Homo sapiens: one gene and its partners. The protein of the gene in region 1 interacts with the protein of each later gene in a biochemical or structural test. Each region holds a gene or a part of one and is shown in the gene's direction. Other genes may lie near its edges. The genes, in order: MXD1, RPS6KB1, SMC3 and AKT1.

Region 1 (7,358 bases):
TGGGTCACACTGAGGTGTCGGGTGGCTTCCTGTTGAGGATATATGGCAAAACCCCTGCTAGTTCCCCAAATGGGAGTTTGACCTGGTTTAAAATGGGACAGCAGGGCACAGGAGTAGTCAGAACTGAGAAAAGAGAGCTGAGACGGGTGTTTGTTCTGCTTGTTTTGGATCTGGGAGCTCCGTGGGTACTCAGGGCTGGCAGAGGGATTCTAGATCCCAGGAGTTTGTGTGTCTGTATGTGTGTCTGTGTATGTGTGTGTGTGTCAGGGTTGGAGAGCTTTGGTAGGAGCTGTACATAACAGAGGGGTCTGTTTGCTTTTTTATCTGGTTCAGGGATTGGATTTCACTACTGTATGATAGAACTGAGTCTACTTAATATATTTCATTGCTCTCCTGTGGTTGGCCCGGGCACCAGTGTGGGGATGTCTGCAGGCAGTGGCATGTGGGCAGGGGGCAGCCATCAGGCTGCAGCAGTGAGGCGCCGGAGAAGGCCAAGGCAGACACTGCCAAAGACAGAGTTGGCTTTGGGTCTCTGCAAAAATCCAGAAAGAATTCTGGTCCTATTTTTGTAGAACTAGGCCAGAAAACACTGAATGAACAAGTATTAGTCTCAGCTGGAATTAGTCAAATGGCTTATTTCTAGTTTCACGACTAGGAGTGTTCTTTGGAAACCCACATTTGGGTAGTGAAAATTGCACTTTCTGGGCAAGACTCCTATAAGGCTAGAAATGACAATGCATCAAAAGATGACTTTATTATATTTTTATCAGTGGACAAACTTCCTAAAAAAATTCACACACTCATATCTGCATATAAACCAACATCATAAAAGTACTAAAATGACACTGTTCTGAATCATGCAGTCTTTGCAAATAACAAGCTGGCTGAAAAATATCTAAATATAATTTTAATTTTTGAACTTTTTCTTCTAATTGGAAAATTAGCTCATACCTGTAATCCCAGCACTTTGGGAGGCTGAGGCAGGCAGATTGCTTGAGGTCAGGAGTTCGAGACCAGCCTGGCCAACATGGTGAAACCCCATCTCTGCTAAAAATACAAAAATTAGCCGGACGTGGTGGCGGGCGCCTGTAATCCCAGATACTCAGGAGGCTGAAGAAGGAGAATCTGTTGAGCCTGGGAGGCAGAGGTTGCCATGAGCTGAGATCACGGCACTGTACTCCAGCCTGGGCGACAAGAGCAAGAACTCTGTCTCAAAAAAAAAAAAAAAAAAAAAAAACAAAAAAAGAAAATTAGTCTATAAGTTTTATGGCAAGAAATAGACAAATTTATAAATGTATAAATTATACTTTCTCATAGTGTTTCTAATAACATGATCTATTTTCATGGCTCTTTTTGAAGAATATTATCCAAGATGAACAAGTATATTTTACATACAAGTTTTCTTCCCTTCCCTGGTCCCCACCACATGCAGTAGTGGGAGGAGCACACCTGTAACATGAGTCTTTGCTCTGACTCTGCCACATGGACAGGTTTTTCAGAAGAAGTGAAAGACTTACAAAATAGTAAAGCCCTTGTGCTATTACCTCTTCCTAGCTCAGAAATGAATGCTGTACTCCCCAAGCTTGCCAAGCCTTAGAGCACCCTTGGAGAGTTTAGGACAACTTCCTCATGACCTAGAAGAGGCAGGAGGCTCAGAAGGAAGGAAGTCTAATGCCTTGCTTACTAGCCCTGCCTTAGGGGAACATCCTGAAGTCTCCCTGGAGAGTGTGAATTGACTTCTTACATTAATATCATGCATATTCACCTGTCCTATAGCTTTCTGAAGCCATTTCCTTTCTTTGGTCTATATTTTCAACTTTTGCTATTACAGTACAATTCTTAAGAGGAAAAAGGGCAAACCTATAAGGCATTGCATTGTTTCCCAATTCAGCTGGAGGGGAGCCTCCTAGACCCCAGGGAACTCTGCTCCAAGTAGGTTGTGTGTGGGCAATGAATGTTATCTAAAACCTGAAGACTCTGAGCACTGCTGAAGGTGCAAAGATGCAGTAGAGATGGACTCTGTCCTCTAGAAGCTTAAAGTCTAGTTGAATAGATGACATAATCCATTCAGCAAACACTTATTAAGCATGTGTGTGTTTGAGGCACGGTGACAGCACAGCAATGATTAAGCTGCAATCCTGACTTTCTAAGGAGACTGCAATGAATGGTTAAGTAAGAAATATGAAACAAGTCAGGCAGTACAGTGAACTTCCCAGTGAATAATATAAACAGTTAAGTGGTGCTTAGAAAATAGAGGAATCACTGTGAGCTAGGATGGCTTGGGAAGGCTTTAAGGAGGTGGTAAGCTTAAGCAAAACCCCCAAATCTCAGCTGCTTCTTACATTCATAGAATTTTCCAGGTTCTAGAATAAAGCACAAACCATTTCAAGGAAATGTAAATTTCTCAGTTGGAGCAACTCTCGTGCTCTCTCTTCAGTCAGTTGCCGTGGCTGCTGCTTCATCCAGCCCTTCTCCCTCTCCCACTCCGTGCCATTGCATCAGTCTGACATACTCCAAGAACAAAAAGTATAAAAAATGACTCAGTAAAAACCCCCATCACTTCCTTCCTTATCTCTGTCTGACTGTTCCTTGCCTTCTCCCTGCCCAGCCAGTTTCTTATGTGTCATTCCAGAGTTTGTCTACATACAAGAAAACATGAATATAGATTCTTGTTTTCCTCCATCTTTAAGATAGCATGGTATACTCACAGTTTGGAATCTTGCTTTTCTCCACTTAACAATATATCTGGAAAATCTTTCCTAATAGGACATAAAGCACATTCTCATTCTTTTTGATAGCTACATAGTACTACACGGTGTGGATGTAGCATAATTTATTTAACCAGTTCCCTCCTGGGTGGTCATTTGGGTTGTTTCAATCTTTGCTATTACAAATAAAGCTTCAACAAATAACTCCACAGATATATATGCTCCTTGACTTATGATGGGGTTATGTCTCAAGAAGCCCATCATAAATAAAAAACATCCCAAGTCTAATATGCATTTAATACTTCAATAAACTCATTATAAATTTAAAAAATTGTAAGTTGAACCATCATGAGTCAGGGACCATTACTGTATATAGTATTTACACATGTGAATGACTATATAATAGCAGATATTATTCCCTACCCCAGCACTTGTATTATCAATAGACTTAGCTTCGAAAACCTTGGATTTTGCTTCTCATTGGTTTTCACCAGAGTTGTCTGGTTCAAAATATGTTTATTCAGCAAAAGGTCATTGGTAGCATTTGCCATCGCAAGGCCTGGGCAACTTCACACTCTTTGAGAACTCATTCTGCCTGGGGTGCTTCTGGCCCACTGTGAAACTCTCAAATGCTACTGTGGTCTTGTTTTCATAGACGGGCTCATCTTCGCTTGTGCCTGGAGAAGTTGAAGGGGCTGGTGCCACTTGGACCCGAATCAAGTCGACACACTACGTTGAGTTTATTAACAAAAGCCAAATTGCACATAAAGGTAAGTGTATTGTTGGGATGCTGCTTTATCTTTACCTGTTCAGTGAGGGTTTGTCTGTTGTTACATCTCCAGGACAGTCCTCTCCCCTGAACTCCTCCAGTCTAGCTATTGGATGAATCACAGGTACCTCAAATGCAACATATTCAAAACCCAACTGAGTGTTTCTCACTCCCATGCACCAGAGGTTAAATGGTCCATCCAACTCTCCATCCAGTTGTACAAGCCAGAAATTCAGGAGTCCGTGATAGCTCCTGCTCCTTAACCATATATCTAGGCCATCTCCAAGGCCTAAATATTTTGCAACCGGTCTACTTCCATCTTCATCCCCACTGTCTACTGCAATAAAATCCTCAGAGGTCTCCCTATATCCCTCTGGGTCCCTCCCGTCTGCTTTCCATGCTTCCTGAGAACAGTCCTTCCAAGGTGCAAATCAACACGTGACCTTGTTTAAAATTCTTCTGTGGCTCAGGACAAGCTCTGTCACCTGGTCTGCCCCAGATTCTGCCTTGCCTGGTCCTCACTTGCCTCTGCAGCACCATCTTGTTCCCCAATTCCCCTTTCTCCAGCCCTTCTTCCAGTCCCTGGCACTGTCATATTGTCTTACTTTAGGGCCTTTGTCAATGCTCTTCCCTCTGCTTGGTACACTTTCCTCTCTCTTCTTCACCTAGAGGACTTCTACTTATTCTTCAGATCACAGTGCAAGTCTCTCTAGCTCTGATAATCCTTCGCTGACTTTCCCAACTCAGTGACCTCCTTCCTGTGACAGGTGGTCCCATCACTGGGTATCTCTTAGCCCTGTCATAACTGACATTTGACAGTGGTTTGTGTGACCATTGTGTTGTCTCAATCCTTAGACTATACACCCCACGAGGGAGGGGACTGGGTCTTTGTGCTCACCTCACAGCCCCAGCACCTCCTAGGGTATCGGGCACAGAGTTGACACTCTCTTTGCTACCTGAATAGCAAAGGGTAAGGGGAATTGGATTCAAAGTCTTGAGAGCCACAGCCAAAATCCCTGTTTAGCATGTTTGTATAATCATATTATAGTTGGACAAATGTTACTTTAATTATGGTTAGAAGCCTGCATTCATGACAATTCTGGGAGAAAACCTCTATTTAAAGCAAAACAGCTACAATTAAACAATCTTCTTAATTATCTGAAGAATATGAGAAGCTGGGGGCAGATTTATAAAAATGAGTATTCTATGGAAATGTGTTTTCTAAACTCTTCTGTTGGACAAATTAGAATCAGGACATCAAAAGGGACTATTATTTCCTGCTAACAAACAGAAGTTAATTGAGATTTGGCATGACACAAAAAAGTGCTTATGTAATTGGGACATGTACTTGAATAAACATAGTTTTAAATGGAAGCGTGTTTCTTAAGCTCCCATCAAGTGCAGTTTTCTAGTCCGGAGATCAGGTGTTCAGGGGATTGCTGCAAACAAGGGAGATCAGGTTGGGGACTGCTGCCTGCAGTCTTTCTGATACTAAAACTGAGGGCTACCAGGGTGCCAGTATGTGAGAGCTCACCCCCAGAATCCCTGTGACAGGACAAGTACCCCCAGCACTGGCGATGCTGAAGAGTCAGACGAAGCCAGGAGTCACTGGCCAGTCGACTTCCTGTCTCAGGGAGAAGCTTGATGAGTGGCACCGAAAGGCGTCTGAGGAAGTGTGGCGCATTCCACTGCTAGAAGGGAAGATGCGGGGGCCATTGCCCATTTAGAGATCTCCCTGTGGGGCCCAACAACTACCCCTTTGACTTGCAGAAACTTGAAGATTGTGACAGAAAAGCCGTTCACCAAATCGACCAGCTTCAGCGAGAGCAGCGACACCTGAAGAGGCAGCTGGAGAAGCTGGGCATTGAGAGGATCCGGATGGACAGCATCGGCTCCACCGTCTCCTCGGAGCGCTCCGACTCCGACAGGGGTGAGCCTCTCTCACTCTCCTCCCTGTCTCCCTTGTGCTCCCCAACCCCAGAGCAGGGGTTCAGTACTGCGGACAGGAGGCAGAGTGTAAGAAGAACTAAGACACTGGGTATGATGTAGAGAAGTCGAACAGTGTGACCTCCAGTGACAGGTTCCTTCTCCCTGCTAACACTTAGGTGACAACCCCAGAAGAGTTTGATTGGTGTCAGTTTTCAGCCTAGTTTGTTTTGTTTTGTTTTGAGACGGAATCTTGCTCTGTCACCCAGGCTGGAGTGCAGTGGTGTGATCTTGGCTCACTGCAACCTCCGCCTCCCGGGTTCAAGCGATTCCCCTGCCTAAGCCTCCCAAGCAGCTGGGATTACAGGCACACACCACAATGCCTGGCAAATTTTCCTATTTTTGTAGAGATGAGGTTTCACCATATTGGCCAGGCTGGTCTCGAACTCCTGACCTCAAGTAATTCACCCACCTTGGCCTCCCAAAGTGCTGGGATTACAGGCGTGAGCCACCACACCCAGCCAAATTTTTGTATTAGTAGAAACAGGGTTTCACTGTGTTGGCCCAGCTGGTCTCAAACTCCTAACCTCAAGTGATCCACCCGCCTTTGCCTCCCAAAGTGCTGGGATTACAAGCATGAGCCACCACGCCTGAGCTTTCTGCAGAGCGCTTTCATCAATGTCCTTCTCTCTTGTCCTCCCTGCAGAAGAAATCGACGTTGACGTGGAGAGCACGGACTATCTCACAGGTGATCTGGACTGGAGCAGCAGCAGTGTGAGCGACTCTGACGAGCGGGGCAGCATGCAGAGCCTCGGCAGTGATGAGGGCTATTCCAGCACCAGCATCAAGAGAATAAAGCTGCAGGACAGTCACAAGGCGTGTCTTGGTCTCTAAGAGAGTGGGCACTGCGGCTGTCTCCTTGAAGGTTCTCCCTGTTGGTTCTGATTAGGTAACGTATTGGACCTGCCCACAACTCCCTTGCACGTAAACTTCAGTGTCCCACCTTGACCAAAATCAGCTTTGTAACTGTTTTCAAGGAGGTGCTTAGGATTGTGGGTTTCTGATTGCATCCACTAGCTTCTCTTTTTCTCGCCATAAAAATTTGTCTCTGAGAGACTATACATTCCAATCAATTTGAAGCATCCAAGAATTCTTAGACCGAATAAGCAATGTCCACATCTCAGCAATCCCCCTCTTTGCTCTCCTCGTGTCCTCTCCCAGACCTTTCTTCCAGTTTTCTGGCTTACTGTGTTACTTGCCTAGGAGGAATGTCCAAGTGTGTCTTGTACTTAGGAAACTGAAGGAAACAAACTTTTGAAATTGAGATCCTGATCTCAGAACTCCAAAGTAAGCTTTGAAAGCAGCATTTAAGAGCACTTAACCATGGACCTCACCACCAGTGAGGAAGTCAGGAATACCTCTAGAAAACACGCCCTTCACACCGCGCATGCTCATTCCCCCGACGCGCCGCGTGTGGATGGGAGCAGTATTTCTCACTTTAAAATGGACACCTTGATAGTGTGTCTCTGGGGTTGCACAGCTCATCAAAGTTCCAAATTGTTTGTTCTCACAAACAAAACGGTACAATCTATTTTTGTGCGATGTTCTTGGGACCTCGCTGTGTTCTGCTATCTCGAGGCACATTCTCCCCTCCAACTTTGTTAATGCTACTTGTCTCTGGAACATTTTTTTTTCCTACCTCAGAGATAAATGAGATCTCCATTTCCCACTTAACACAGTGATTATCCTTTTTTCCCCCCCCAAAATAGTGACATTTGGTCCAATTATAATCTATTTTCCTATTGAACTTTCAGCAATAACTGAGCTGTGGCACTAGCAGAGCTAGTAGCCATTATCAGTGAAAGAAAAAGTCCACATTTCTACTCTCTGTTGCAGGTGAACAGGAGAGGATGGTACACTGTTACTAGAACTCCTCTCCTTATTGATTATTTTTG
Region 2 (6,312 bases), on another chromosome or scaffold:
CCACCATGCATGGTGGTGTATTTTTGTATTTTTAGTAGAGACGGTGTTTCACCACATTGGCCAGGCTGGTCTTTAACTCCTGACCTCAGGTGGTCTGCCCGCCTTGGCCTCCCAAAGTGCTGGGATGACAGGCGTGAGCCCCCGTGCCTGGGCGTATTTAACATCTTCATATGGAGCCTGAATTTTCCTGTTTTTTTTTCTATTCCTGTCAGTAGGGTAGAATTTTGTTTGCTAGCATATCAGGCTCAATGGAATTCTGCTTTCTTGAAGTGTGTGCCTCACGAAATGGCTGGAAAGAAGTTAACGGGTCTAAAAATGAGGTTGAGGACGTGGGAGAGTGTACACATTGGTGGTTTTAGGTGTGCATCATTGTGTAGGTATGTCAGACTGAACAACCCCATTCTCTTGAGATACATGACAAAATGCCATTCTGTAGTCCACTGTTACTGTCTTTCAGGGTTTTACATATGTGGCTCCATCTGTACTTGAAAGTGTGAAAGAAAAGTTTTCCTTTGAACCAAAAATCCGATCACCTCGAAGATTTATTGGCAGCCCACGAACACCTGTCAGGTATTTCACACTCTTATTTTCACTTTTTTTTGTTTTTAAACAACCTACAAGAGTGTTTGCTTAAGAAGTTTATGCCAAGTTATATAAATGAAAGACTGTCATACTCTCTTTGGTTGACATAAGCACAGCATCTATATCTTACATTGCAAAGGACTAGTCTGACTAATCTATGATGTTATATGGTTTACCTTCCCTCCCAAAAGTAAGCAGCCATACTGGCAAATGTCCTCTTTATCCATTCACTCAGCATTTATTGTGCACCAAGAGCACCAGCACTACATACTGCATGTTATGTGTGTGTATCTATATAGTACTATAATACAGGAATTGTCCCTGTCCTGATGAAGCTTACAATTTAGTGGGAAAGTCACAATAGACAAAGGATATACAAAAATATAATTACAAGTAGTGCAAAGTGCTATAATTTAAAAGGGGAAAAAAAGAATGTACTGGTAGAGAGCAGAGGAAAAACAAGGGGGCTTCTACTCACAGTGATCAGAGAAAGGCCTCCCTGGTGTAGTAACATCTAGCAGTGAACGGAAAGAGCCAGCCCTACAAAAATAGGAGGTATAAGAATGTTGCAGGCAGAAGAACAGCAAATGCAAAAACCCTGAGGGAGGAGAAAAGTTGCCCTTTTCCTGGAAGTGAAAGGGAAATCAGTGTTCCTGGAGTGTGTGGTGAGTGAGGAGAAGGGCAGAGGTTTGGAAAAGTATTTTATTTTAAATGCAATAGAAAGCTGTTTTGAGCAGGGGAGAGTAAAATGATATATATAATACGCATTTAAATGTATATATATCTCATTGAGGGTTTTGGGGGTCAGGTGTAGAGGTAAAGAGACCAGTTAGGAAATTCTAGCAGTTAATCTAGGTGGGGGAGAGATGGTTCAATTTTTGCCTTTGTGCTAATCCACGTGAAAATAAAATTAAATGAAAATAAATGTCATGTTACCCCACTCCCTTTAAACGTAAAGGAAATATGTCTTGTTGAGATGACCCTTAAGCAAATGAATGATAGCTCTTCCTTGTCTTAAAGCCCAGTCAAATTTTCTCCTGGGGATTTCTGGGGAAGAGGTGCTTCGGCCAGCACAGCAAATCCTCAGACACCTGTGGAATACCCAATGGAAACAAGTGGCATAGAGCAGATGGATGTGACAATGAGTGGGGAAGCATCGGCACCACTTCCAATACGACAGCCGAACTCTGGGCCATACAAAAAACAAGCTTTTCCCATGATCTCCAAACGGCCAGAGCACCTGCGTATGAATCTATGACAGAGCAATGCTTTTAATGAATTTAAGGCAAAAAAGGTGGAGAGGGAGATGTGTGAGCATCCTGCAAGGTGAAACGACTCAAAATGACAGTTTCAGAGAGTCAATGTCATTACATAGAACACTTCAGACACAGGAAAAATAAACGTGGATTTTAAAAAATCAATCAATGGTGCAAAAAAAAACTTAAAGCAAAATAGTATTGCTGAACTCTTAGGCACATCAATTAATTGATTCCTCGCGACATCTTCTCAACCTTATCAAGGATTTTCATGTTGATGACTCGAAACTGACAGTATTAAGGGTAGGATGTTGCTTCTGAATCACTGTTGAGTTCTGATTGTGTTGAAGAAGGGTTATCCTTTCATTAGGCAAAGTACAAAATTGCCTATAATACTTGCAACTAAGGACAAATTAGCATGCAAGCTTGGTCAAACTTTTTCCAGCAAAATGGAAGCAAAGACAAAAGAAACTTACCAATTGATGTTTTACGTGCAAACAACCTGAATCTTTTTTTTATATAAATATATATTTTTCAAATAGATTTTTGATTCAGCTCATTATGAAAAACATCCCAAACTTTAAAATGCGAAATTATTGGTTGGTGTGAAGAAAGCCAGACAACTTCTGTTTCTTCTCTTGGTGAAATAATAAAATGCAAATGAATCATTGTTAACCACAGCTGTGGCTCGTTTGAGGGATTGGGGTGGACCTGGGGTTTATTTTCAGTAACCCAGCTGCAATACCTGTCTGTAATATGAGAAAAAAAAAATGAATCTATTTAATCATTTCTACTTGCAGTACTGCTATGTGCTAAGCTTAACTGGAAGCCTTGGAATGGGCATAAGTTGTATGTCCTACATTTCATCATTGTCCCGGGCCTGCATTGCACTGGAAAAAAAAATCGCCACCTGTTCTTACACCAGTATTTGGTTCAAGACACCAAATGTCTTCAGCCCATGGCTGAAGAACAACAGAAGAGAGTCAGGATAAAAAATACATACTGTGGTCGGCAAGGTGAGGGAGATAGGGATATCCAGGGGAAGAGGGTGTTGCTGTGGCCCACTCTCTGTCTAATCTCTTTACAGCAAATTGGTAAGATTTTCAGTTTTACTTCTTTCTACTGTTTCTGCTGTCTACCTTCCTTATATTTTTTTCCTCAACAGTTTTAAAAAGAAAAAAAGGTCTATTTTTTTTTCTCCTATACTTGGGCTACATTTTTTGATTGTAAAAATATTTGATGGCCTTTTGATGAATGTCTTCCACAGTAAAGAAAACTTAGTGGCTTAATTTAGGAAACATGTTAACAGGACACTATGTTTTTGAAATTGTAACAAAATCTACATAAATGATTTACAGGTTAAAAGAATAAAAATAAAGGTAACTTTACCTTTCTTAAATATTTCCTGCCTTAAAGAGAGCATTTCCATGACTTTAGCTGGTGAAAGGGTTTAATATCTGCAGAGCTTTATAAAAATATATTTCAGTGCATACTGGTATAATAGATGATCATGCAGTTGCAGTTGAGTTGTATCACCTTTTTTGTTTGTCTTTTATAATGTCTTCAGTCTGAGTGTGCAAAGTCAATTTGTAATATTTTGCAACCCTAGGATTTTTTTAAATAGATGCTGCTTGCTATGTTTTCAAACCTTTTTGAGCCATAGGATCCAAGCCATAAAATTCTTTATGCATGTTGAATTCAGTCAGAAAAGAGCAAGGCTTTGCTTTTTGAAATTGCAACTCAAATGAGATGGGATGAAATCCTATGACAGTAAGCAAAAACAGAACCATGAAAAATGATTGGACATACACCTTTTCAATTGTGGCAATAATTGAAAGAATCGATAAAAGTTCATCTTTGGACAGAAAGCCTTTAAAAAAAAAATCACTCCCTCTTCCCCCTCCTCCCTTATTGCAGCAGCCTACTGAGAACTTTGACTGTTGCTGGTAAATTAGAAGCTACAATAATAATTAAGGGCAGAAATTATACTTAAAAAGTGCAGATCCTTGTTCTTTGACAATTTGTGATGTCTGAAAAAACAGAACCCGAAAAGCTATGGTGATATGTACAGGCATTATTTCAGACTGTAAATGGCTTGTGATACTCTTGATACTTGTTTTCAAATATGTTTACTAACTGTAGTGTTGACTGCCTGACCAAATTCCAGTGAAACTTATACACCAAAATATTCTTCCTAGGTCCTATTTGCTAGTAACATGAGCACTGTGATTGGCTGGCTATAACCACCCCAGTTAAACCATTTTCATAATTAGTAGTGCCAGCAATAGTGGCAAACACTGCAACTTTTCTGCATAAAAAGCATTAATTGCACAGCTACCATCCACACAAATACATAGTTTTTCTGACTTCACATTTATTAAGTGAAATTTATTTCCCATGCTGTGGAAAGTTTATTGAGAACTTGTTTCATAAATGGATATCCCTACTATGACTGTGAAAACATGTCAAGTGTCACATTAGTGTCACAGACAGAAAGCACACACCTATGCAATATGGCTTATCTATATTTATTTGTAAAAATCCAAGCATAGTTTAAAATATGATGTCGATATTACTAGTCTTGAGTTTCTAAGAGGGTTCTTTATGTTATACCAGGTAAGTGTATAAAAGAGATTAAGTGCTTTTTTTTCATCACTTGATTATTTTCTTTAAAATCAGCTATTACAGGATATTTTTTTATTTTATACATGCTGTTTTTTAATTAAAATATAATCACTGAAGTTTACTAATTTGATTTTATAAGGTTTGTAGCATTACAGAATAACTAAACTGGGATTTATAAACCAGCTGTGATTAACAATGTAAAGTATTAATTATTGAACTTTGAACCAGATTTTTAGGAAAATTATGTTCTTTTTCCCCCTTTATGGTCTTAACTAATTTGAATCCTTCAAGAAGGATTTTTCCATACTATTTTTTAAGATAGAAGATAATTTGTGGGCAGGGGTGGAGGATGCATGTATGATACTCCATAAATTCAACATTCTTTACTATAGGTAATGAATGATTATAAACAAGATGCATCTTAGATAGTATTAATATACTGAGCCTTGGATTATATATTTAATATAGGACCTATTTTGAATATTCAGTTAATCATATGGTTCCTAGCTTACAAGGGCTAGATCTAAGATTATTCCCATGAGAAATGTTGAATTTATGAAGAATAGATTTTAAGGCTTTGAAAATGGTTAATTTCTCAAAAACATCAATGTCCAAACATCTACCTTTTTTCATAGGAGTAGACACTAGCAAGCTGGACAAACTATCACAAAAGTATTTGTCACACATAACCTGTGGTCTGTTGCTGATTAATACAGTACTTTTTCTTGTGTGATTCTTAACATTATAGCACAAGTATTATCTCAGTGGATTATCCGGAATAACATCTGAAAGATGGGTTCATCTATGTTTGTGTTTGCTCTTTAAACTATTGTTTCTCCTATCCCAAGTTCGCTTTGCATCTATCAGTAAATAAAATTCTTCAGCTGCCTTATTAGGAGTGCTATGAGGGTAACACCTGTTCTGCTTTTCATCTTGTATTTAGTTGACTGTATTATTTGATTTCGGATTGAATGAATGTAAATAGAAATTAAATGCAAATTTGAATGAACATAAATAGAAGTGATTTATTTTTTTATTATCTTAAAGATAGGAAGGAATTAGTATACGTATCAGGTGTATAAATGGTTTAAATTTATTTTAACATGTCAGATGTGTTCAAGTTGTCATATAAATAAACTATGTATGTAAGGAATGGGTTAAAAGCTGTTCTGCTGAGAAACTGAAGCTATTTAAGTATATAACAAGTTTTAGTATTGATTTTTAAGTTAGATGTTACACATCTTTGATTTTCAAGTTATGTCAGATAGTAGATATGAATTGTTTACTTAAAAAAATACATGTAACAATCTACGTGAAAGCTAGCTTCATAAAAAACTCTAGGAAGACCTTCTTGTGCTAACAATCAACAATCTGTTCAGCTACACTTGGTCAGCTACATTTGATAATTTGATATGTATGCACAAAATAACGTAGTGAACAAATGTGTTTTAACTAATGTCTCAATATATCTAGTGTAAGCTGGGTATTTTGCATTAACCACTTCTTTTCTGTGAGGTAATTATACCACACTTGCCAAGGGGATTTCTCTACAGAAGCTCTCAAACTGATCTTACCTTGCTATACAACATAGTAGCCTATCAATACTGGTAAAACAATCTTTTAGAAGCCATGATCTGAATTCACAGAGTAAATGAGTTTCTGAATCTACATTACCTGTTTTTGAGGTGAAGGAATAGAGGGATGGAAGAAATGCTTCCAGTTCATCAGCATTTTTATTGGATGGCATAGCTCCATTAGATTTTCTCCCTTTTCAATTTATAGGTAAACTGCATTCCAAAAAAAAACCCCACCATGCACCTCCTTGGTTATGTAATCACATTCATTAAGA
Region 3 (7,358 bases), on another chromosome or scaffold:
GCTGATTTTCTTCATACTTTGAAACTTTTTAAGCTTTTATAATTTGTTATAATTACAGTTTATATACTGATTTTATCTTAAAATGACAATGAATACTCTGTTAACAAATGGGAATGTACAAACTGTTGTGAAAAGTGTCTTGGTTAAGAGTATTGAGTATTTGTAGTATTATTTTTAGTGAGATAATTGAAATTTTAAAATAAATACTTATGGGCAAGGACTTTAAAATGACCTTATTTAAAAAGTTTTCTCCTTTACTATTAAATTAACTGTGGGCTTTTACATTTTTTCTTAGATCGATAAAGAGGAAGTTTCACTTCGAAGAGTTATTGGTGCCAAAAAGGATCAGTATTTCTTAGACAAGAAGATGGTCACGTAAGCATTTTTCTTTTTTTTAAAAAAACTGAATATGTACTTAAATAGAGATGGGGTATTGCTGTGTTGGCCAGGTTGGTCTCGAACTCTTGGCCTCAAATGATCCACCTCGGCTTCCTAAAGTGCTAGGATTACAGACATGAGCCACCACGCCCAGCCAGCATTTTTCTTTTTCTCAATACGGAGTCTTGCTCTGTCGCCCAGGCTGGAGTGCAGTGGCGCAGTCTCGGCTCACTGCAACCTCCACCTCCCGGGTTCAAGCTATTCTGCTGCCTCAGCCTTCTGAGTAGCTGGGATTGCAGGCAGTCACCACCACACCCGGCTACTTTTTGTATTCTTAGTAGAGACGGGGTTTCACCATGTTGGCAGGCTGGTCTCGAACTCTTGACCTTGTGATCTGCCTGCCTTGGCCTCCCAAAGTGCTGGGATTAGAGGCATGAGCCACTGCGCCCAGCCCGCAATTTTATGATTTCCTTACAAAAGAGTAAAAAGTATTCTTTTACCTGCTTCATATATGAGGAATATTTGCTTCATCTTCAACAAGTCAACATATAGAGGATAAACATAAGAATCAGAAAGTTCTGAGGATGATACAGATGGTTTAATTACTGATCTTTCCTCCCTAATGCTATCAACCAAGGGGCTACTCTACTCATTGCTTAATGGTGCTTTAAAATTATTTATCGGAAAGTAATTTCATTGTTTGTCAACAGGAAAAATGATGTGATGAACCTCCTTGAAAGCGCTGGTTTTTCTCGAAGCAATCCTTATTATATTGTTAAACAAGGAAAGGTAAAACAATTGTATGTCCTTTTTAAGTAGAATTTGTTTTCTGAGTAATTCTTGAGTGATGAATTTGGTTTATTGATTTGAGTGGTTAAGCTGAAGCAAAAATGGCCATATTCTTTTACATGGCCATAAAGTACCAAATAGGTCCATTGCATGTTGAGATGGAAGTATTTCAGCATATTAAGTGGATCTTGTTTTCCTAGTGACTGGTATTACTTACTGAGGTGAAAGTATGGGAAGACATTATTGGCTTATGAATGTTGCAATAATTAAGAATATTGTAGGAATTCTATAAAAATCACATTTGAAAAACTTTCTAAAATTAATATTTTGTGTTACCTAATTATTTATCACAATTAAAATACTGAAAAGCTAACATTACCAGAAATCTGCCATTTTGCCACATGTTATTTTCCCTAATAGGGATTATGTTTTTACATTTTTTCAGCAGCCAAACTACAAACTTTTTTAGCTGATTGTTCTGCTCTCTTCTCATATACTTTCACTTTTTTTTTGGACTAGGGAAAATTCTCAAAGAATATTCACTTATTTTATACTGTAGGCCTTTTTTTCTAGATATGTATTGGAAAGTTAGCATTTAGAAGAAGTGATTAGGAAGAATATGGAGTTTCAGTTTTAGAAAATGTGTTACTGGAAGAACACGTTTTTTTCCGATTTAACTATTTGTGGGAGATAAATTTTTTTAAATGGAGGCTGATTTGAAAGAGCACTTTTCTGAGATCCGTCTGCTGTCAATCTAGGCCCTTTTACTTCATTTCAGTTTCTGCCCGTATGCCATCCTTGATTGCCTCATCTGAAAGCATTGCCGTCCCCTCAACCCTATGTGCTTTATTTCCTTAATCTGTTTTATTTTTCTTCATAACACTTACACTGTTAGGATAGTACTTATTTTCTGTCTTTTTCCATTAGAATGTAAGCTCCATGAGGGTGGGACCTTTTCTGCTTTGTTTGCTCTTTTCCAGTGCCCAGCAGTGGCACATATGTTGTAGCCATTTGAAAAATAATTTTTAAGTGAGGAAATTGCATGAACCAATATGTATAATTGGAGCGTTCAATAATGAGGATCTGAAGGATGATTCTTTGATGTAGATACTTTTGATAGACCTATTTTCGTAGAGATAATTTCAATTTTTTAATGCAGTGATATCATTTTTGACATTTAGGGATACTTGTTATATATTAAGTTGCATGGCACTTAAGTTGTACCATTCTCTCTATATTTAAAGCATACCATTTTTGTCATATCATTAGCCTTCTGTATCTGTAGGTTCCACATCTGCAAGTTCAGCCAACCATGGATCAAAAATATTTAAAATAAATAAAATTTTAAAACAGTACAATAAGAAATAATACAAATTTAAAAATACAGTAAAACTATTTACATAGCATTTACATTGTATTATTATAATTAATCTAGATATTAAAGTATATGGAAGGATGTGCATAGGTTATATGCAAATACTATGCCATTTTATATAAGGGACTTGAGCATCCTTGGATTTTGGTACCTGCAGGGGGTCCTAGAACCAATCCCCATGGAAACTGAGGAAGAATTGACTTTTAATATATTATTGTAGCTTTAAAAAAAAGTGTAGTCAGTGATGGTTTTCCCTTATAAAAATACTTTGTTTTTTGAGAATGGAGCTCATCTTTTATACCTTATCATATTGACTAAGAAAAAGATGGTGGTGTGAGATACTCCTTCACTTGTTAGCCCTATTCATAAAGGAGAGTTATGACCGTAACAGTTGTATTTGGATTTTATTTGGTAAATTTCATTTAAGTAAAGGAGACATAGATATGTAGGCATGCGTACTATACAAATGACATTAGCCAAATCATAATCTGTTTAAAACTTGGCATGTCCCAAATTCAAAAGTCTGAAATACAGAATGCTCTACAATCTGAAACCTTTCGAGTGTGGACATGACATTCAAAGGAAATGCTTGTTGGAACATTTTGGATTTCAAATTTTTGGATTTGGGTTGCTCATCTGGTAAGTATAAATGCAAATATTCCAAAACTTGAAAAAATCTAAAATCTGTAACACTTCTGGTTTCTAACCATTTTGCATAAGGGATACCCAACCTTCATGTGTATTAAAAACCTTTCAACGTGGAGTTCTTCTTCTTAAACGGAGGCTACAGCTATGTAATGATTATTTTTCTAAAAATTTTAGATCAACCAGATGGCAACAGCACCAGATTCTCAGAGATTAAAGCTATTAAGAGAAGTAGCTGGTACTAGAGTGTATGACGAACGAAAGGAAGAAAGCATCTCCTTAATGAAAGAAACAGGTAAAATAAATGTGATTCTGCCTTATTTTTTTGTTGCAAATTACTGTTTTTGTGACAGAGTGGCTCCATGATGGGAATATAGTAGGTGTTTAGTATATGACAGCATTAGATAATGCTGTTATTAATAAAAATTGAGAATCCATAACACCAATGATGTTAGTAGCTTTTAAAAATATTGTGGAAACGCACACTGACTTTTTTTTTTTTTTTTTTTGAGATGGAGTCTTGCTCTGTCACCCAGGCTGGAGTGCAGTGGCGCGATCTCTGCTTATTGCAACCTCTGCCTCCCGGGTTCAAGTGATTCTCCTGCCTCAGCCTCCCTGAGTAGCTGGGATTACAGGTGCCCACCACCATACTCAGTTAATTTTTGTATTTTTAGTAGAGACAGGGTTTCACCATGTTGTCCAGGCTGATCTCGAACTCCTGACTTCAGATGATCCACCTGCCTTGGCCTCTCAAAGTGCTGGGATTACTCATGAGCCACTGCGCCTGGCCGGCACACTGACTTTTTAAAAGGAAGCTTAAACTGAGGCCCTTACTACATGTTATAAAAGAACCAGTGTCACCATGTGTAAATTTGTTCTCTGGTGCTTTTCATAATAAAGGATCTTAACCCATTTATGCCTAGCATTCCATTATTGGAATCCTAAGCTTGTGGATGTTACTTATATTCTACTGCTCAAGGTCATTGCCAAGGTCTGATTTTTCACAGAAAAAAATTTGCAACCTCTGGCATAAATGGGTTAATTGCTATTTTAGTATTTTAAATTGGGTTACCACATCACATCAAAGAAATAATGCTACAGTTCTTAAAAATAATTTAATTCAAGGTATATTTAAGAAGTGATATTACATAAAAATCTTATTCAATTCTTCCACCTCTCTCCCCATTTCTTTTAAGAGGGCAAACGGGAAAAAATCAATGAGTTGTTAAAATACATTGAAGAGAGATTACATACTCTAGAGGAAGAAAAGGAAGAACTAGCTCAGTATCAGAAGTGGGATAAAATGAGACGAGCCCTGGAATATACCATTTACAATCAGGAACTTAACGAGACTCGTGCCAAACTTGATGAGGTAAAATATTTACCTGTGACACTTAAAATCAGATTAATTTTGTTTTTATGAATTTGTTAAACTCAGGCCATAATTACACTTTTCAGTGATTTTAAATAGAAACTTAAAAAAAACCTCTCAATGAATTTATTAGTCAGCAAGTTTTTTTAGTTCAAGGAAATTAGCCATGTGGTCCTTGCTATATAGTATTATCTGAAATATAATCAGATGGTGGTATTAGGCAGACAAGATGAGAGGAAAGCCATTTTGAAGGCTTCTTGTAGTTGTAGTATATCCTAAACTACACATTTTGTACAAAAATTTAGTGCTTCAGTTTTCTAGTTTAAAATCATTTTTAAAATTTTTGTAGAAAATTTGAGCAGTTACTTTTGGTTTATTTTAATAGAAAAATTTTTATTAGATGTTATGAAATATTTAGTAATTACAAAATGAGTTAGATATGATAAGTTGTTTTTTTTCTTAGCTTTCTGCTAAGCGAGAGACTAGTGGAGAAAAATCCAGACAATTAAGAGATGCTCAGCAGGATGCAAGAGATAAAATGGAGGTAAGATTATAAACAAGGTTCATGTTAACTTACTTTTTACTTTTGAGACAGGGTCTTGTTCTGTCATCCAGGCTGGAGTACAGTGGTGCCATCATGGCTCATTGTAGCCTTGACTTCCTGGGCTCAGGCAATCCTCTTGCCGCAGCTTCCTGAATAGCTGGAGCACAGGTGTGTACCACCACACCTGTCTAGTTTTTAAATATATTGTAGAGACAAGGTCTTACCATGTTGCCCAGGCTGGTCACAAACTCCTGGGCTCAAGTGGTCCTTCTGCCTCAGCCTCCTGAAGTTTTTTTTTTTTTTTTGGAAGACAGGGTCTCACTCCATTGCACAGGCTGGAGTGCAGTGGTGAGATCACAGCTCACTGCAGCCTTGATCTCTCAAGCTCAAGTGATCCTCCCACCTCAGCCTCCTATTTTTGTTATTTTTTGAAGAGATGGAATCTCAGTATGTTGCCCAGGCTGGTTTTGAACTCCTGGGTTCAAGGAGTCCTCCCACCTGGGCCTCCCAAAGTGCTGAGTTTACAGGCATGAGCAACCATGTCCAGCCATCGTATGTTTTTGACCATAGTAAACCCTTTTGTACCAGAATTATGGAATGATTACACAAGGGAGAGTTAGAGGAATTGAATATTGAAAGGACAGAGTATTACTAAACATTAAGTGAAAGAGAATTAATGGTGTCACAATTCTGCTATTGTACTTCTAATTGCCTTATTTTCTGTTTAATACTTTTGAATAGGATATCGAACGCCAAGTTAGAGAATTGAAAACAAAAATTTCAGCTATGAAAGAAGAAAAAGAACAGCTTAGTGCTGAAAGACAAGAGCAGATTAAGCAGAGGACTAAGTTGGAGCTTAAAGCCAAGGATTTACAAGATGAACTAGCAGGCAATAGTGAACAAAGGGTAAGTTAAAATGCTAAAAATGAAAGATGTGAATGTTCAGGTGAGTAGCAACTGTAGAAGACAGCCCTTTCTGTGACTGGTGTGTGTTGGAATTTTTTTTTAAGCTTTGCTACGTTAGCATAATTTGTACTCAAGTAACAACTTGGTACTGTCCCTTTGTTTCTTACATTAAAAAAGAGTTTCATGTTACAGGTGGGTTTTCTCATGAAGTTTTTTTCCTGAGAAAACATTTATGCTAGACCTAAATTATGCAAAAAATTTAAAGCAGTTTGCATTTTTACTTTGTTTACAGAAACGTTTATTAAAAGAGAGGCAGAAGCTGCTTGAAAAAATAGAAGAAAAGCAGAAAGAACTGGCAGAAACAGAACCCAAATTCAACAGTGTGAAAGAGAAAGAAGAACGAGGAATTGCTAGGTCTGAGAACTTTCACCAACACTTTAACTTTCTACATCATATTATGTAAAACTAGGTTGTCCGAGGAGCTCAATTATATAGTAGCTGCTTTTTACACTTAATTCTTTTTGTATCTTTTTGAAAAATGGCTTTATGTTTCTGTGTGCAGTTGACATTATTGGTTGCAATTAAACTTGGTTATTATTCTCCTTTTCATCCCATTTGCTTCTATTTTGTGTAGATTGGCTCAAGCTACCCAGGAAAGAACGGATCTTTATGCAAAGCAGGGTCGAGGAAGCCAGTTTACATCAAAAGAAGAAAGGGATAAGTGGATTAAAAAGGAACTCAAGTCTTTAGATCAGGCTATTAATGACAAGAAAAGACAGATTGCTGCTATACATAAGGATTTGGAAGACACTGAAGCAAATAAAGAGAAAAATCTGGAGCAGTATAATGTAAGAACTTCTATAGCTGCTTTGTAAAAATCTTTCAGAAGAGATAAATGTGTTTAGTTTTATCTACTTCAAGTTTTCTTTTTAAATAAGTCTACATGTTGCTCTTAAAATATATGACAGATACTTATTTAGAAAAGGCCTGCACAGTTTAATATACATATAGTTCTTTTTTAAAGAATATTCATGTCATTGAGCCTTTATGTAGATTAAGTATATTAAAATGTATGTATGTATTTTTAATTTTTTTGAGATAGGGTCTTGTTCTGTCACCCAATCTGGAGTGCAGTGGTACAAACACAACTCACTGCAGCCTCCACCTTCCAGGCTCAGCGATCCTCCATCCTTAGCCTCCTAACTGGGACCACAGGCATGTATCACCAGGCCCAGCAAAATTTTTATTTATTTTTTTGTAGAGACGAGGTCTTGCCATGTAGCCTAGGCTGGTCTCGAAATCTTGGGCTTAAGCAATCCTCCGACCTTGGCCTCCCAAAGTGGTGGGAT
Region 4 (3,258 bases), on another chromosome or scaffold:
ACCCTAGGAGCCCTGGCCATCACCCCAGCTGATGGGGTCTGCCAGCTGGGTTCGGAAGCCTGCACTCTGAGATGCTGGGTGCCCTGTCACCAGGTGTGCTTCTGCCCCGTTCCCAGCCTGCCCCTCCCCTGAATGCCTGTCCTAGGCTGTGTGCAGCTGGTCGGGCTGGGCAGCCCTGGGACCCAGCTGGGCACCTGTTCTCCCATTAACACAGGGTGCCCTGGTCCTGGTCCCCGTTCCTGCCTTGAGGCCTGCCACCCTCCTGCCCTGCCCTCCAAGGGTATGGGGGGCCTGGGCAGTGCTCAACCTCTGCCCAGCCTTGACCAGAGACCTTGCTAATTGACAATGGACAATGCTGGTGCCCAGCCCAGACTCTGGGGTGGGGCAGTGCTTGAGGGGGTCCTTGACTGTGGGACCTGAGGGGCTCTCTGGCAGCTCCTCACGTGTGCACATCACCTTATAGTCACCCTTCATCCTGGGTCATTGAGAGTCCTGTCTGCAGCCAGATGCCAGCAGGCTGTGGTCCTGTAGTCCCTGAGCCATGGAGGCAGGGTGGGCTCATCCTGTGCACCTTGTTCCACAGTCTCCCTCTTTCCCAATTTACAAGAAGACCAATAAGAAAAATAAGAAAACAAGAAAGAAAAAGGAAAAATAAAGTTATCACCTCCTGGTAGCAGGGAGGGTCTCTCAGAGCTGGGCTGCACTACCTCCTGTCGCCTGCTGGGGCTGCTGTGAGGGCAGCTTTGCGTCTCAGCTGTTGAGGGTTGTCTCCGTGCTCCTGCACCCCTCATGTCCCTCCCTCCCAGAGCTGCCTCTGTGGGGGGCTGGTGGCTTGCTGCTCTCTGACATCAGTCCTGCCTGGAGACCCCTTGGAGATCCAGGTGCTTTGAAGGTCTTGAGCACACTTGAGGGTGTGCTGGGAGTGGGGAGCGAAGCTCATGACTGTCCCGTCTGCCCACCTCTGCAGCTCAGCCCACCCTTCAAGCCCCAGGTCACGTCGGAGACTGACACCAGGTATTTTGATGAGGAGTTCACGGCCCAGATGATCACCATCACACCACCTGACCAAGGTGAGGGGCCACTGCCTGCCCCCGCCCACTCCCTTTTCTCTCCACACTCAGAGAGGCCTGCAGTGTTCAGCTTTTTTGGCTTCAGATGTTTTAAAATCTAAATATTTAAAAAGGTTCCTTTTGGAGAGTGCCAATGATCAGGGTGGGAGGCAGTGCTCTGAGGGCCCAGGTCCCTGTGTCAATCTGTGGGGCCCTGTCTCAGTTTCCTGGCAGTATGGCAGCGTGCTGGCCGTGCTTTAAGAGGTTGGCTTCCTACTGGAGCTGTGGGTGGGTGGAGGTGGCAGGGAGGTGGGGCACCGGGGTCTGAGCTGTCTACACCCACAGATGACAGCATGGAGTGTGTGGACAGCGAGCGCAGGCCCCACTTCCCCCAGTTCTCCTACTCGGCCAGCGGCACGGCCTGAGGCGGCGGTGGACTGCGCTGGACGATAGCTTGGAGGGATGGAGAGGCGGCCTCGTGCCATGATCTGTATTTAATGGTTTTTATTTCTCGGGTGCATTTGAGAGAAGCCACGCTGTCCTCTCGAGCCCAGATGGAAAGACGTTTTTGTGCTGTGGGCAGCACCCTCCCCCGCAGCGGGGTAGGGAAGAAAACTATCCTGCGGGTTTTAATTTATTTCATCCAGTTTGTTCTCCGGGTGTGGCCTCAGCCCTCAGAACAATCCGATTCACGTAGGGAAATGTTAAGGACTTCTGCAGCTATGCGCAATGTGGCATTGGGGGGCCGGGCAGGTCCTGCCCATGTGTCCCCTCACTCTGTCAGCCAGCCGCCCTGGGCTGTCTGTCACCAGCTATCTGTCATCTCTCTGGGGCCCTGGGCCTCAGTTCAACCTGGTGGCACCAGATGCAACCTCACTATGGTATGCTGGCCAGCACCCTCTCCTGGGGGTGGCAGGCACACAGCAGCCCCCCAGCACTAAGGCCGTGTCTCTGAGGACGTCATCGGAGGCTGGGCCCCTGGGATGGGACCAGGGATGGGGGATGGGCCAGGGTTTACCCAGTGGGACAGAGGAGCAAGGTTTAAATTTGTTATTGTGTATTATGTTGTTCAAATGCATTTTGGGGGTTTTTAATCTTTGTGACAGGAAAGCCCTCCCCCTTCCCCTTCTGTGTCACAGTTCTTGGTGACTGTCCCACCGGGAGCCTCCCCCTCAGATGATCTCTCCACGGTAGCACTTGACCTTTTCGACGCTTAACCTTTCCGCTGTCGCCCCAGGCCCTCCCTGACTCCCTGTGGGGGTGGCCATCCCTGGGCCCCTCCACGCCTCCTGGCCAGACGCTGCCGCTGCCGCTGCACCACGGCGTTTTTTTACAACATTCAACTTTAGTATTTTTACTATTATAATATAATATGGAACCTTCCCTCCAAATTCTTCAATAAAAGTTGCTTTTCAAATTTTTGGCTCACTTTGCTGGGTGGAAGAGTGGGTGGCCAGGGAGGGAGTGGGGAGTCCTGGGAGGGAAGCAGCATCCTCAGAGCAGCTGGTCCTCCCCAGCTCCTCCTGGTGGGCACCGCCACCCCAACAGGTTTGGGGACAGGCTGTGTGGTGGGCCGAGGCGGGAGTATACAGGCCTGTTCCCAGGGGCAGCCTCCCATGGAAGGTGTTCCACCCCCATCTCCAGAGGCCTGGCCTGAGGGGAGATGGGAGGCCCTGGCTGGCCCTGCCCCCGTTGGGATCCACCTCTTCTTCCCTTGACCCCACCCAGCTTCACCCCAGCCATGAAGGAGACCATTGGACCACGTGGCCATCTGCCCCCCAGCCCCAGGTGCTGTTCCCCTGGGTAGGGCAGTGAATGAGACAGACCACCAGGAAGGACAGATAGGGCAGGGCCCAGAGTTGGGGCCAAGGTCATGGCCTGGGCCACGGTGGAAGTAAGGCTGGGAGGCCTGAGTGGCCTGTTCGAAGCTGGACAGAGCGGGAGGAGGGGCTGCAGGCGGTGGGAGGAGGGGCTGCAGGGGGCGGGAGGGGACAGGCTGGGGCCCAGGTTACCCCAGAGCACTACATCGAGCTCTGAGCCGGAACAGCCTGCAGAATGTGCCGGTGCTGCCACCTGGTGGACGCCTGCCGGAACCGCGCCCTGAGCCAGGAGAGGAGTCCACTGCCGAGCAACTGACAGCGGGTTGGCGACCAGGTTCCGGGTGGTTGGGTGACCAGCACGAGCCAGGGGCCTGGAGCTTCAGCTTCCT

The links.
Region 2: of the proteins of MXD1 (region 1) and RPS6KB1, one has a biochemical effect on the other in vitro, tested with the Homo sapiens proteins (one study listed by BioGRID).
Region 3: the proteins of MXD1 (region 1) and SMC3 form a complex in vitro, tested with the Homo sapiens proteins (one study listed by BioGRID).
Region 4: of the proteins of MXD1 (region 1) and AKT1, one has a biochemical effect on the other in vitro, tested with the Homo sapiens proteins (2 studies listed by BioGRID, with this or other methods).

Annotation. Positions count from the first base shown.
Region 1 is NC_000002.12:69,931,988-69,939,345, forward strand, and holds part of MXD1 (max dimerization protein 1), read left to right. Parts: intron 1-729; exon of another isoform or gene 730-1,206; intron 1,207-3,363; coding exon 3,364-3,478; intron 3,479-5,247; coding exon 5,248-5,407; intron 5,408-6,109; coding exon 6,110-6,297; 3' UTR 6,298-7,358. UniProt on the Homo sapiens protein: Component of a transcriptional repressor complex together with MAX. In complex with MAX binds to the core DNA sequence 5'-CAC[GA]TG-3'. Antagonizes MYC transcriptional activity by competing with MYC for MAX binding.
Region 2 is NC_000017.11:59,944,949-59,951,260, forward strand, and holds the end of RPS6KB1 (ribosomal protein S6 kinase beta-1), read left to right. Parts: intron 1-457; coding exon 458-570; intron 571-1,602; coding exon 1,603-1,840; 3' UTR 1,841-2,638; coding exon of another isoform or gene 2,639-2,654; 3' UTR 2,655-5,626; downstream 5,627-6,312. UniProt on the Homo sapiens protein: Serine/threonine-protein kinase that acts downstream of mTOR signaling in response to growth factors and nutrients to promote cell proliferation, cell growth and cell cycle progression.
Region 3 is NC_000010.11:110,577,540-110,584,897, forward strand, and holds part of SMC3 (structural maintenance of chromosomes protein 3), read left to right. Parts: intron 1-295; coding exon 296-375; intron 376-1,088; coding exon 1,089-1,167; intron 1,168-3,364; coding exon 3,365-3,482; intron 3,483-4,383; coding exon 4,384-4,559; intron 4,560-5,022; coding exon 5,023-5,103; intron 5,104-5,844; coding exon 5,845-6,009; intron 6,010-6,301; coding exon 6,302-6,423; intron 6,424-6,643; coding exon 6,644-6,857; intron 6,858-7,358. UniProt on the Homo sapiens protein: Central component of cohesin, a complex required for chromosome cohesion during the cell cycle. The cohesin complex may form a large proteinaceous ring within which sister chromatids can be trapped.
Region 4 is NC_000014.9:104,768,557-104,771,814, reverse strand, and holds the end of AKT1 (RAC-alpha serine/threonine-protein kinase), read left to right. Parts: intron 1-967; coding exon 968-1,070; intron 1,071-1,394; coding exon 1,395-1,474; 3' UTR 1,475-2,466; downstream 2,467-3,258. UniProt on the Homo sapiens protein: AKT1 is one of 3 closely related serine/threonine-protein kinases (AKT1, AKT2 and AKT3) called the AKT kinase, and which regulate many processes including metabolism, proliferation, cell survival, growth and angiogenesis.